2 separate regions of the Homo sapiens genome follow, and region 1 is linked to region 2. Evidence: fine-mapped expression QTL. A gene starts in region 2. The other region holds a variant in brackets. All regions are shown on one strand. Distances are from middle to middle. Region 1 has its middle 40 kb from the start of NEBL-AS1. Region 2 holds the start of NEBL (nebulette).

Region 1 (5,397 bases), 320 kb after region 2:
AAAGACTGGCCCCTTTAAAGATCTTGCTTCCCTGATGAGGAAAGCCAATGAGCTGCCATCTCCTCTTGAACAGAGATGCCAAACCCAGTTACGTCAACTTCAAAAACCCGTCTGAGTCCTTTTGTAAAGGTAAAATTTTGTTGTGACAAATGTTTGTTGTGTCAATGAAGTTGGCCATTGCCAAGGGAGATCCTTTTGTTGGGGAAGGATCCTCAAACCAGCAGTGATTGTGATGATGGAAACGGATCTGTCGTCATGGCTTCATTCATTCTCCAATGGTAATTGGAGAAGCACAGAATTTCTCACTCATGCTGAGGTCAGAAATCTTTCATAAATGACCTACCAAGTTACTATCAAGTGTGTTTGCTCTTATGTAATGCTAGTAAATACATTTCAGGGTTTTAAATCACTCAATTCTCTCTCTCTCTTCAGATATATATATCTATAAACATATGTACATATGTAAATGTTATGCATATATTATTATTACATATTATACAACTATTACACAGTATACATATAATATATACTATGTTAGATACAGTATATATACAGTATTATCGCTACATCTGAGTGACAACACTATATATACTACATATAATACTGTGTACAATATATGTATAATATGTCAGAAAGATAATACAAATATATGATTTATTATGTTACATATAATATACATATATAACAACTTGTAAATGTATATATATCTGTAATGTACAACACAATCTTTTTAATCTTTCAGGAAATTCACTGAAAATTAAACTGACAAACAAAGATTTCCCAATTAGTGCAATCCTGGCCCCAACTTTCCTTGCAAAGATTTCGAACACCCAGCGCTAACGTCTGGACAGCGCCTACCCCTCCTCAGAGTGATGGGAGGAAAGAAGGAAAGGCAAGCAACGGCTGAAAAGATGGAAGGAATAAACCAACACTCGTCATTTCTCAAGAGTTTGTGAAACTTCCCATTTTCTGTTAAGGAAGTAAATTACAGAAGCTTCGGTGAAAGGGGTGGAATCACCCGGTTCTTCAGCTTTGCTTAGCTTGTTGGATGACCAGGGACATCTTCAGATTTTTGTTACCACACCTGGCTCCTGAGCCAGGTCCTTCAGTGAGTGCTTTCCAAAGGCCCTGTGGCCACTTGCGACTTCCACTGGCTTCTCGTGTTTCGACACTAGTTTTATTTTTGAAATACTTGCCACTTTTCATCATAGGAAATAGCTGGCTTGACTACCGTTCTCACTCCTTTAGCTGCTGTGTCAATACTTCAAAACATTCAGTCAGTTAACTCGATTCAGTCAAAAATTGTCACAATGTTTAGCATTGTGTTGACAAAGCCTATGGCTTTGGAGAAAATACAGCTCATTAAGTTCTTAGTGATTCTTCATGGTGCAGAGCTACACGGTAGCAGCTACAAATGTAACCAGACCACCGTGACAAAACGAAGGCAATGAATTAATATCGGAGTGCTCACCATGTGCCAGGCACCGGTTGGAATTTAGCCATGTCTCATCTCACTTTATCTCACAATAACCCAAGCCCTTCAAGCTGATGGTTGCCCAAAGTTGGATTGAAATGATAGTTTATTATGCCATTTCTGTTTACTCACTAATACTCAAAGAATGCAGAAAAAGATAAGCTTGACAGGCAAATTTCAGTTGATGGTTCAGTTTCCTTGAACTTGTATTTGGTCTTGTTGCAGACTGATTTGACTCCCTTTAAAAAATCAGAATGTAGAGTGTCTGGGTTCCTGTGCCCAGAGAAAGGACATTAGAGAAGATTCAAAACAGATGGAGATGTAGAGCTGGTTGAGTGCAGGCGGAGGAAAACCGGAGAGGAGCGGAGGACGGGGGAAGCTTCAGTCTAAAGAACAGTGTCTATAAAATGCACTTTCAAAACAACACTGTCTGAATGCCTCCTTGTGTGCAAGTTACAGGGCTGACCAAGAGATTTTTAAGTAACCAGGAGAAGACACTAACTTTGCTAATGAATAGCCAGGAAGTGTTAATGAGGCATTCATGAAGATGCTCTCAGGACTTAGCAATGAGAATGTCCCGAGGCAGGGAACCAGGGCAGGAGAAGGCCTGGGGCGACCTGGGCTTGAGGAGTAGAGTAAATAGAGAAAAACCTTAGAAATGGGTTCTATAGCAGCCTTTAGCTATAATGTAAGTGGAGTTTATATCTTAAATAAATTATTCTATTTTTACTGCAAATATTCCTCTCTTAAAAGGACCAACGAATATCTACACATTATATACCTGCTCATCTTCCATGTTCTGTGCCCAGAGGAAGTCCAACAAGCTCGAGACACCACACATCATTTGCGAGGGAAAGGACAAGGTCTTCCTTAAAAGCAATAAACTGTGTCTCCTGGACTTTTATGTAAGTATCGGCTGGTAAAGGGAGTTGTCACAGACAATAGATTTTCCCCACAATTATAAAACTCAGCAGTTTTGTGTCTTGAATGATGATAATACAGACAGATAATTAAATCTTAACTTCTGTCTTAGTCTTCTTCAATTCTCAACAATGAATTGGTAATTTACTCATGAATTTCATGTATATATATGTATATAATATATATGTATAAGTATATGATATAGATGTATATATATCATATATGTATATCATGCACACACACAAAAGGCAAAGAAAAGTGCTTTCTATCTTATGTTTTTTCAAATTAAAAATTTGTATCTTGCACTTATTTTTAGTGGTATCAAATAAAGCATTCTTTGTACTTTCTGAAGATTTATTAAGACACTAGTAAGCCTTTATGCATTTGTGCTAAGGGAAAAAGGAAGAGAGGGAGGAAGGAAAGAAACAAGAAGAGAAGAAAGGAAAAGGATCTCCTCAGTATAACTACCCCATACACACATGGCACACACATGGCACACACATGCACACAC[A/G]CGCGCACATTACACACATGCACACACATGCACACATGCACATTACACACACATACACACATGCACACACATGTGCACACATTACACACACGCACACATGCACATTACACACACATATACACATGCACACACATGCACACATATGCACATTACACACACATGCACACATGCAAGATTGTTGGGTACAGTGAGGAAAGGGTTTTTCAGGTGCTTCTTTTTTAACTGCTAATTCATGGTATTTACAGAAAAGTCAGAAAATATATAGTATGTAAAAAGGGAAAAAATGGAAATCACTTTTAATTGAAGCTCCCAGAATTAATCATTGTCAGTATTTTTGGCTACACTCCTAATATTAGTGTCTTTAAAGAGAATATCCTGTGTTCTTTTAGAAAAGAATAGGAAATAAATTAAAGGACAGGCCCTGCTGTGTCTCTCTGCCCCCATCTCCTGGAATCTAGCTCCCTTTTCCCTGCCGGGGAGGAGCAATAAACTGTGAAGCCCTCCCTGTGCCACCTGCCTCACCCCACCCTGATCCCTCCGACCCCATGAAGAGATGTCAACTTCCACTTGGCCAGAGTTTTAAATCCACAAAACTTGAAGATTAGAGCGAAATAACTAAAATGAACTTTTAGTTTCTGTCTTCTTACCTAACATACAATTTGGTTAGATTTGCACAAATTAGTGGCATGTGGTGGCACGCACCTGCAGTCCCAGCTACTCAGGAGGTAGGGCAGGAGGATTTCTTGAGGCCAGGAGTTTGAGGCTGCAGTGAGCTATGATCACGCCACTGTACTTCAGCCTAGGTGACAGGGCAAGAGCCTATCTCTTTTAAAAAGAGTTTTTAAAAGATCTGCACAAATGAAGAATATGTGTTTGCAATGGGCTGTCTTATTATGGGCATTTCATGGTGCTCATAAAACTCACATTTGGGAGGATTCTCTGTAGCATCTGTATTCAGGGAGCAAATTAAGCAAAACAATACAAACTCATGAATGCAAAATGTAGCACAAAAGTAAATATTCAGAATGAGAAAAGATTTCACAACAAATAACATATCTTTTAAAACTAACAAATACTGCAAGTGCCACAAAAGGCAAAGAAAAAAATATAATCTGTTTATTAACTGGCTGACCCACTACCATAATATTTTCCACAGACTAGTTTTTTTTGTTTTGTTTTGTTTTGTTTTTGTTTTTGAGACAGGGTCTTACTCTGTCATCCAGTCTGGAACGCAGTAGCACAATCACAGCTCACTGCAGCCTCAACCTCCCAGGCTCAGTTGATCCTTCCACCTCAGCCTCTTGAGTAAATGGGACCATAGGCATGTGCCACCATGCTTGACCAGTTTTTGTTTTTGATTTGGTTATTTATAGAGACAGGGTCTTGCCATGTTGCTCAGGCTGGTCTTAAACTCCTGGGCTCAAGTGATCTTCCTGTCTCAGCCTCCCAAAGTGCTGGAATTATAGGCGTGAGCCACCGCACCTGCCCTCCCAAACTAGTTTCCAGCTCTACTTGTTCCTCCTTCACTTCCTACTTCCCAGCAGGGTCAGTATCCTAAGACAGGTTCACATCACAGTTCCGCCCCTGATTCTAGGCCGTCATTCATAATTCCAGTCAAGTTGCCACGGTATGCAGTAGGGTACTGCTGAAACCCATCCTACGTGGGAAAGCCAGCCACGAGTTGTCTACAGAGTGACTCTGAACCACCAGAACACATCCCACTAAACTCTCACTAAATATACACCCCCAACCTGACTTCCCCTTAGCCACATATCCAAGTGCCTGTGGCTACTTCAATGCCACCCAACTCAAGGAGAATTAAGACAAGGAGAAGTCAAAAGGGGAAGACACAGTGGTCCTAACCAGCTGCAATTAAAAGATCACACTTTTTGGCCGGGTGCAGTATCTCATGCCTGTAATCCCAGCACTTTGGGAGGCCCAGGCGGGAAGATCACGAGGTCCGGAGTTCAAGACCAGCCTGGCCAACATGATGAAAACCCATCTCTTGGGCCAGGCGCAGTGGTTCAAGCCTGTAATCCTAGCACTTTGGGAGGGCAAGGTAGGCGGATCATGAGGTCAGGAGTTCGATACCAGCCTGGCCAACACAGTGAAACCCTGTCTCTACTAAAGACACAAAAATTAGCTGGGCATGGTGGCACACACCTGTAGACCCAGCTTCTTGGGAGGCTGAGGCAGAAGAATTGCTTGAACCCAGGAGATGGAGGTTGTGGTGAGCCGAGATCGCACCACTGCACTCTAGGCTGGGCAACAAAGCAAGACTCCATCTCGAAAAAAAAAAAAGAAAAAGAAAAAAGAAAAGAAACACGAAAACCCATCACTACTAAATATACAAAAATTAGCCGGGTGTGGTGGCACGTGCCTGTAATCCCAGCTACTTGGGAGGCTGAGGCAGGAGAATCGCTTGAACCCAGAAGGTGGAGGTTGCAGTGAGCCAAGATCGCGCCACTGCACTCCAGCCTGGGAGACAGAG
Region 2 (5,397 bases):
AAAATCTGTAATAAACAGAAAGTATGCCTATCTGTTTCATTTTACCTACGTGGGTGTGAAATGTATGGATTTAGCTTTTGCATAATGATAAAGGCCACCACCCCTCACAACATGTTGGTTTTAAAGTCACTGATAGACAATCTTATCCAAAACAACTCCAACCAAATCACCTACTAACTACAGTTACCACTTTAGTCCTGATGGTTTATGTAACACAAGTTAGCTCAGCTATAATTGCACTTCAATAAAAATATATCAAAGCTGGAAGAGGTTAGGAACTCAGGGTTTTAGTTGGTAGCATTACTACTAATAATAGTAACATAATAATAATAAGGCGAAGAACAACATTTCATGGAAATCTACAGGGAGAGATAACTTGGCAGTGTAAAGAGGGAGGCCTCTGTGTTCAACTATTACTGCCTCTGCTTAACTGTGTGACCCAGGCAAGGTACTGAACCTCTCTGTGCCTCTATCTCCTCGCTTCAGAAATGAGAAAAAGCCTAGCGCCTACCTCGCAAGCTGCAATCCCTGGCACACAATAGTCACTAAATCTTAACTGTTGCCAATAGTGTTATTGTTGTTGTTGTTGTCATTGTCACTTATTATTACTGCAATTTACAGAGAACTTTCACATACAATAGCTAATGACTATTAAGTAATAGCACAAAGAAATACTTAATTTAAAGGGTAATTACATCACATGTCAAGTATATGGGAAAGGGTATGATTTCCACCAGCATCCTTTGTGCTTGCCTTCTGGTTTGTCAGAAAGAGCCAGTCATATCTAAATTGTGATTGGATGGATGTAAAAGGAAGTAACAGACAGAGTAGTTAATAACAGCTAACATTTATGGAGTACTCACAATGTTCCAGATAGTTTATTCAGCATTTATATGCATTACCATTATTTAATCTTATTATAAATGTTACAGCTGAGGGATGGAGCCAAGCCAGGTTCCATAACCTTCCCAAGGTTACTGGGGAGTCAACCCAGGCAGGTTGACTTTGGAGGATGTGCCAGACCACTACCCTCCTGCCCAGGACTGACTTCCGTTAGAAAACAAACGTGCAAAACATTCTGATCATTTTGCTTATTATCAACAACAGAAACAACCAGTATTGTGCTCATCTCTCTAAATGAAGACACAGGCACATATTCACTTTACAGGAGTTACCCTTTCTCTGGACCAGCAATCCTCTTAGAACCGCTAATGAGGATCATCTAAATTCTCATCCCTGGTGAGCAACATTTTTCCTTGTACTTCTTGAATTCTAGCTTACATATTTAACATAAAATTATATGTTCAATCATTCAATAATTCTGGGATTCCCTTAAAGTGTAATATCAACCAATCCCAGTTACTAAAAAATGTCACAACAAAAATACCCCTTGCACTAATATCCTTGCACTAATATCAGGGTTCTTAGCAAGCAGGTCAGTAATCAACAAATCCTGAATTGTAAATAAATATTATATGCATATATATATATATATATATATATATATATATATGCATTTTCCTGTTCTGGAAGACAAGTCCATTCATTAGATTGTTCAGAAGGCCCCAAAATGTTAAAAAAATGACTATTCATTTAGATAGAGGGCCTCCCAAGACAAATTACATCATTATATTCATTTTAAAATCTTTGGGGGTTCTCAAATGGAATAAATACTGCAATTCAATGCCTTATGATTTCATGCCAGCGTGACAGCAAAACTCATAAGGGACAGGATTCTGGATTAAGAATGAGGAGACTTGCTCTAGCAGAAATTCTCTGTATAGGTGACCTTGGGGAAATCACTGAAAATTTCAGGACTTTGTTCCATGATCTGGAAAGTGACTGTGTTTTAAAAGGTGATTTCAGGGTTTCCCCCACAGCTCTATGACTCTATAACATAATAATACCACAGGTGCAATGCAAAATAAGACAAAAATTACTCCAGCCACTTACATCGCTAATGAGTTCCGTGCATTTTCTGGCCAATTCCATGCTTAAGTCTTCAATAACAGGCTTATAGAAGACCTATTTGAAAAAAAAGAAAAGAACAGAAAGAACATTTTTCTCATTGTCAATTTAGAGGAACAAACGCTGGTCTGAGTATGTGTTTTCTCACTCACCTGGTCTTCTTCATTTTCTTCTTCCCCTATCTTTTCTTCTTCAGTTTCATCTTTTATATCCTCAAATACAGGGACCCTCATTTTTACCCTTTAAAATATTTATATTTTTAAAATTTACTCATGTGGCGTCCTTTTCCATACCACAGTGCCCTTGAGATGCTGACGTCTCTGGTGCTCTGGCAGAAATGCCCTTGCCCAAGCCTCAGCCCTATTTAGCCCACACTTCACTCCTTATCTCAGTGGTGTGTGAGTGAACAGAAAAGGATCCCAGAGGTCTACCAGGCTGGCCTCACAAGTGGAAATAACATATTCTTAAGCAAAATTTGATTTTATGAACTTTTAAAGTCAACATTTTTTCCACTGGTTAAGAAATCCAAAAGAAAAAATTTATTTATCTTTTACTAATTCTATTCATTCATAAAAGAGCATAAAAAGGACTTAGAGATTCTGGGAAAACTACTCAGCTCTAACACTCAAGATAGCACAGTCCAAAGCCTGTTATCTCAAAGATTCCTTGTCTCTGTCTAAATAAAGCTTTCACTGGAATGTCAGACTTCCTTCTGACTTGGGGTAGTGAATCTGGATCATTCAAACTCATTTTGTCAACCTAAATTATATGTTTTATCAGACATACCAGTACTTCTCACATCCTAAAAAATACCCACTTTATATTAGCTGATTAGAGGCTACTTATTTATTATGAAAAGCCCTTTGAACCACTTCAAAGAATCTATTCTGAGTTAATTATGACTGTTAGTATTATACTGGCGAGTATGGTATTGTATTAATTGTAAACATCATTAAACATGAGAAGTTGCAGTTAACATATGTTGATACATAATTTAACAATTCTGGAAACATCGTTTCAAAAATCATCATCATCATCTTTGAATTCTGCAGTTCTACTCATCATGTCAATTTTTACAAAGTCATTGGTGATTTGCATTATTACTCAATGGGCACCCCACATTCAGAAAAGTTTGGAAAAATAAACCATCACAATATTTATAATGTAGTGTATGTCCTTGGTTACGTAAAACCAAGGTTAAAAAAAAATTTCTCAAAACAAATATTTTAATGTCAATTCAGGCAATTCCAAGACTCCCTACAACTCACAATTTATTAATCTGGTTATGTAAATCCTAGGGTAAATTAATTTTACCAAGTCATAGCACATTAGCATTGGGCATAAAAAATACCCTACACTGAATAGTAATACTGATGATACAAAATACAAATTTATTAAAAATAGTATGTCATTCTAAGTAGCCAAGCATAATTTTTTCTCTTGATATCATATCTAGTTTTCAATGTACTGTAAAAAAAAAATGCCTTGGCCTTACCTAAACTGAAAATCCTGACAAGAAAAACATTCTACACAGTCATCACGTATAAATTATTTCTGAAATTGTGTTCCATGAGGCAAAAGTTCCACAAAAGATTCTGGGGGAAAAAAGCAGGTTTCTTAAACAAATATGTTTGGGAAATCTGTACCCCAGTCTCTGTCCCTGCCACTTAGAGATCTACAAGGCATATTGACATACTAGAAGTTCTGAGAAGACCTTCAACCAAAAAACCTGCTTAGGCTTGCTTAACCTCGTGTTCCCCTGAACACAAACCTGTTTATCTCATCAAATCTAATCCAATTTAATCTAATCTACCTACCTACCTATCTACCTATCTTTTTTTTAATCATACCCACTACCCCAGAAAACTAACACTCCTCTGTGAAATATGACCGACTGCTTAGGGAAACATTGCTCTATTCTCCTAAAATGTTGTGTTCTAGAAGGAGCTGTTGGTCTTGAACTAGTTTTTGATACAGGCTAAATTAATGGTATCACATATCCTGTTCACCAACAAAATACCAAAAAGAAATTGCCTCAAGCATGCTGAACTTGGAAACCACAACTCTAAGATTACAGCCATATCATGCTGGCCCAGTGTAGTGGATTCCACAAGGACATTCCTTGTATATTTTATTTGTTCCGTAAAAGGAAAGAATGTGTGCATTCCAATTATTTCCCTCAAGTCCTCTGCTGGCCAGAAGACTATTCTAATATTCTATAGATCTATTACATTATCTTTATTTGGAAATAGGGAGGAGTAATTTCTGTAAACTTGTCTTGCAAATTTCTAGGAGTGTAGGGAGAAAATCTTGCCAAAACTGCCTGAGACACACCTTTTGGCTCATATTTGAGGAGACAGTACTGGTGTTACTCAGGGTGACACCTATTCCCCAAGGTGAATTACCTTCATCAGGCTTGCAGTGCAGTTATTTCTCATTTCCCATCACGTAATATGTTCTTAGGGACTCTTCACTGTGCTGCAAGAAAATAAGCTGTTGAGATTTAATGCACAAACTTTTGAAAACAAAAACCAAACACCACGTGCAATGTGAACACAAATTTTCCATTTGAGATTCTAGAATCAGAATTTCAAGCCAAAGGGATCCTTAAGAAATCAATACACCTAAAGCCCTCTCTTTCACAGATGACAAAATGAAGGCTATGAAAAATTATGTGTCTCATTTACAAAGCCATTCAATGAAGCACTAGGATCAGAACCTAACTAGAGACCTGTGTTCATTTGTTCAACAAATAAATGTTGTTATGCCAGGCACTGTGCTTGGTGTTAGAGATAGAATGGTGAATAAAATATTCTTCATACTAAGATAGAATTGGAAATAAAATACTCATCACTCAACACTTGCTGGATGAAGTCTTTAATGGATCGTTTGGCAAGCTAGAGACACCATTACTTTTGATTGAATACATCTTTTTTCCTCTCACCTATAATATAAAATTCATGCAAAGTTTTCTCTAAAAAAGTGTTAAGCCCTGCACTTCATCACAGCAAAGTTTTCTTGTCAGTAGCTCTAAAATATGACATGGAGAATATGAAGAAAGTGTTCCTCATGGACAGCTATCATGTTTCAAAATCCCCTATCGACTTTTCCAAAAACCAAGCTTAATGTATTTTAATAGATATTTTCACCTTGGGTTGCTCCAAAAGGCAAAATCTCTGTAGCTGCTCATAGCTTTTACTTATTGGGCACTTCTTTTATGTTGTTTACTTTTCTACTTTAGTACTCTACGCATGCCTTGATACAGAATGAGACCAAGAGACATCACTTATGGCTAAACTCTCAAAGTCCAGGTCTGGCTCTGCCATGTCCTCTAGGGCAAATTATTCAACCCCTCACTACCTCTAATTCTTCATAGTTAAACAGAAAAACTGAGTTGACAGAAGTTAATAAAAAGAAAGCACTGGCTGG

Evidence for each region. PIP is the estimated chance that this variant, and not a neighbour inherited with it, causes the effect.
Region 1: its variant is fine-mapped to the expression of NEBL in neutrophils (CEDAR, PIP 0.95). The same link has a PIP of 0.9 or more in monocytes.

Annotation. Positions count from the first base shown.
Region 1 is chr10:21,211,577-21,216,973 of GRCh38, forward strand. It overlaps a transcript of NEBL not described here. Among named protein-coding and RNA genes, the nearest start is that of NEBL-AS1, 40 kb to the left of the region's middle. The variant A/G (reference allele first, on the strand shown) is at 2,907.
Region 2 is chr10:20,895,005-20,900,401 of GRCh38, forward strand. It overlaps NEBL (nebulette), which reads right to left and starts at 2,307. Exons shown (of 28, transcript NM_006393.3): 1 at 2,121-2,307; 2 at 1,954-2,025. The coding sequence starts at 2,201.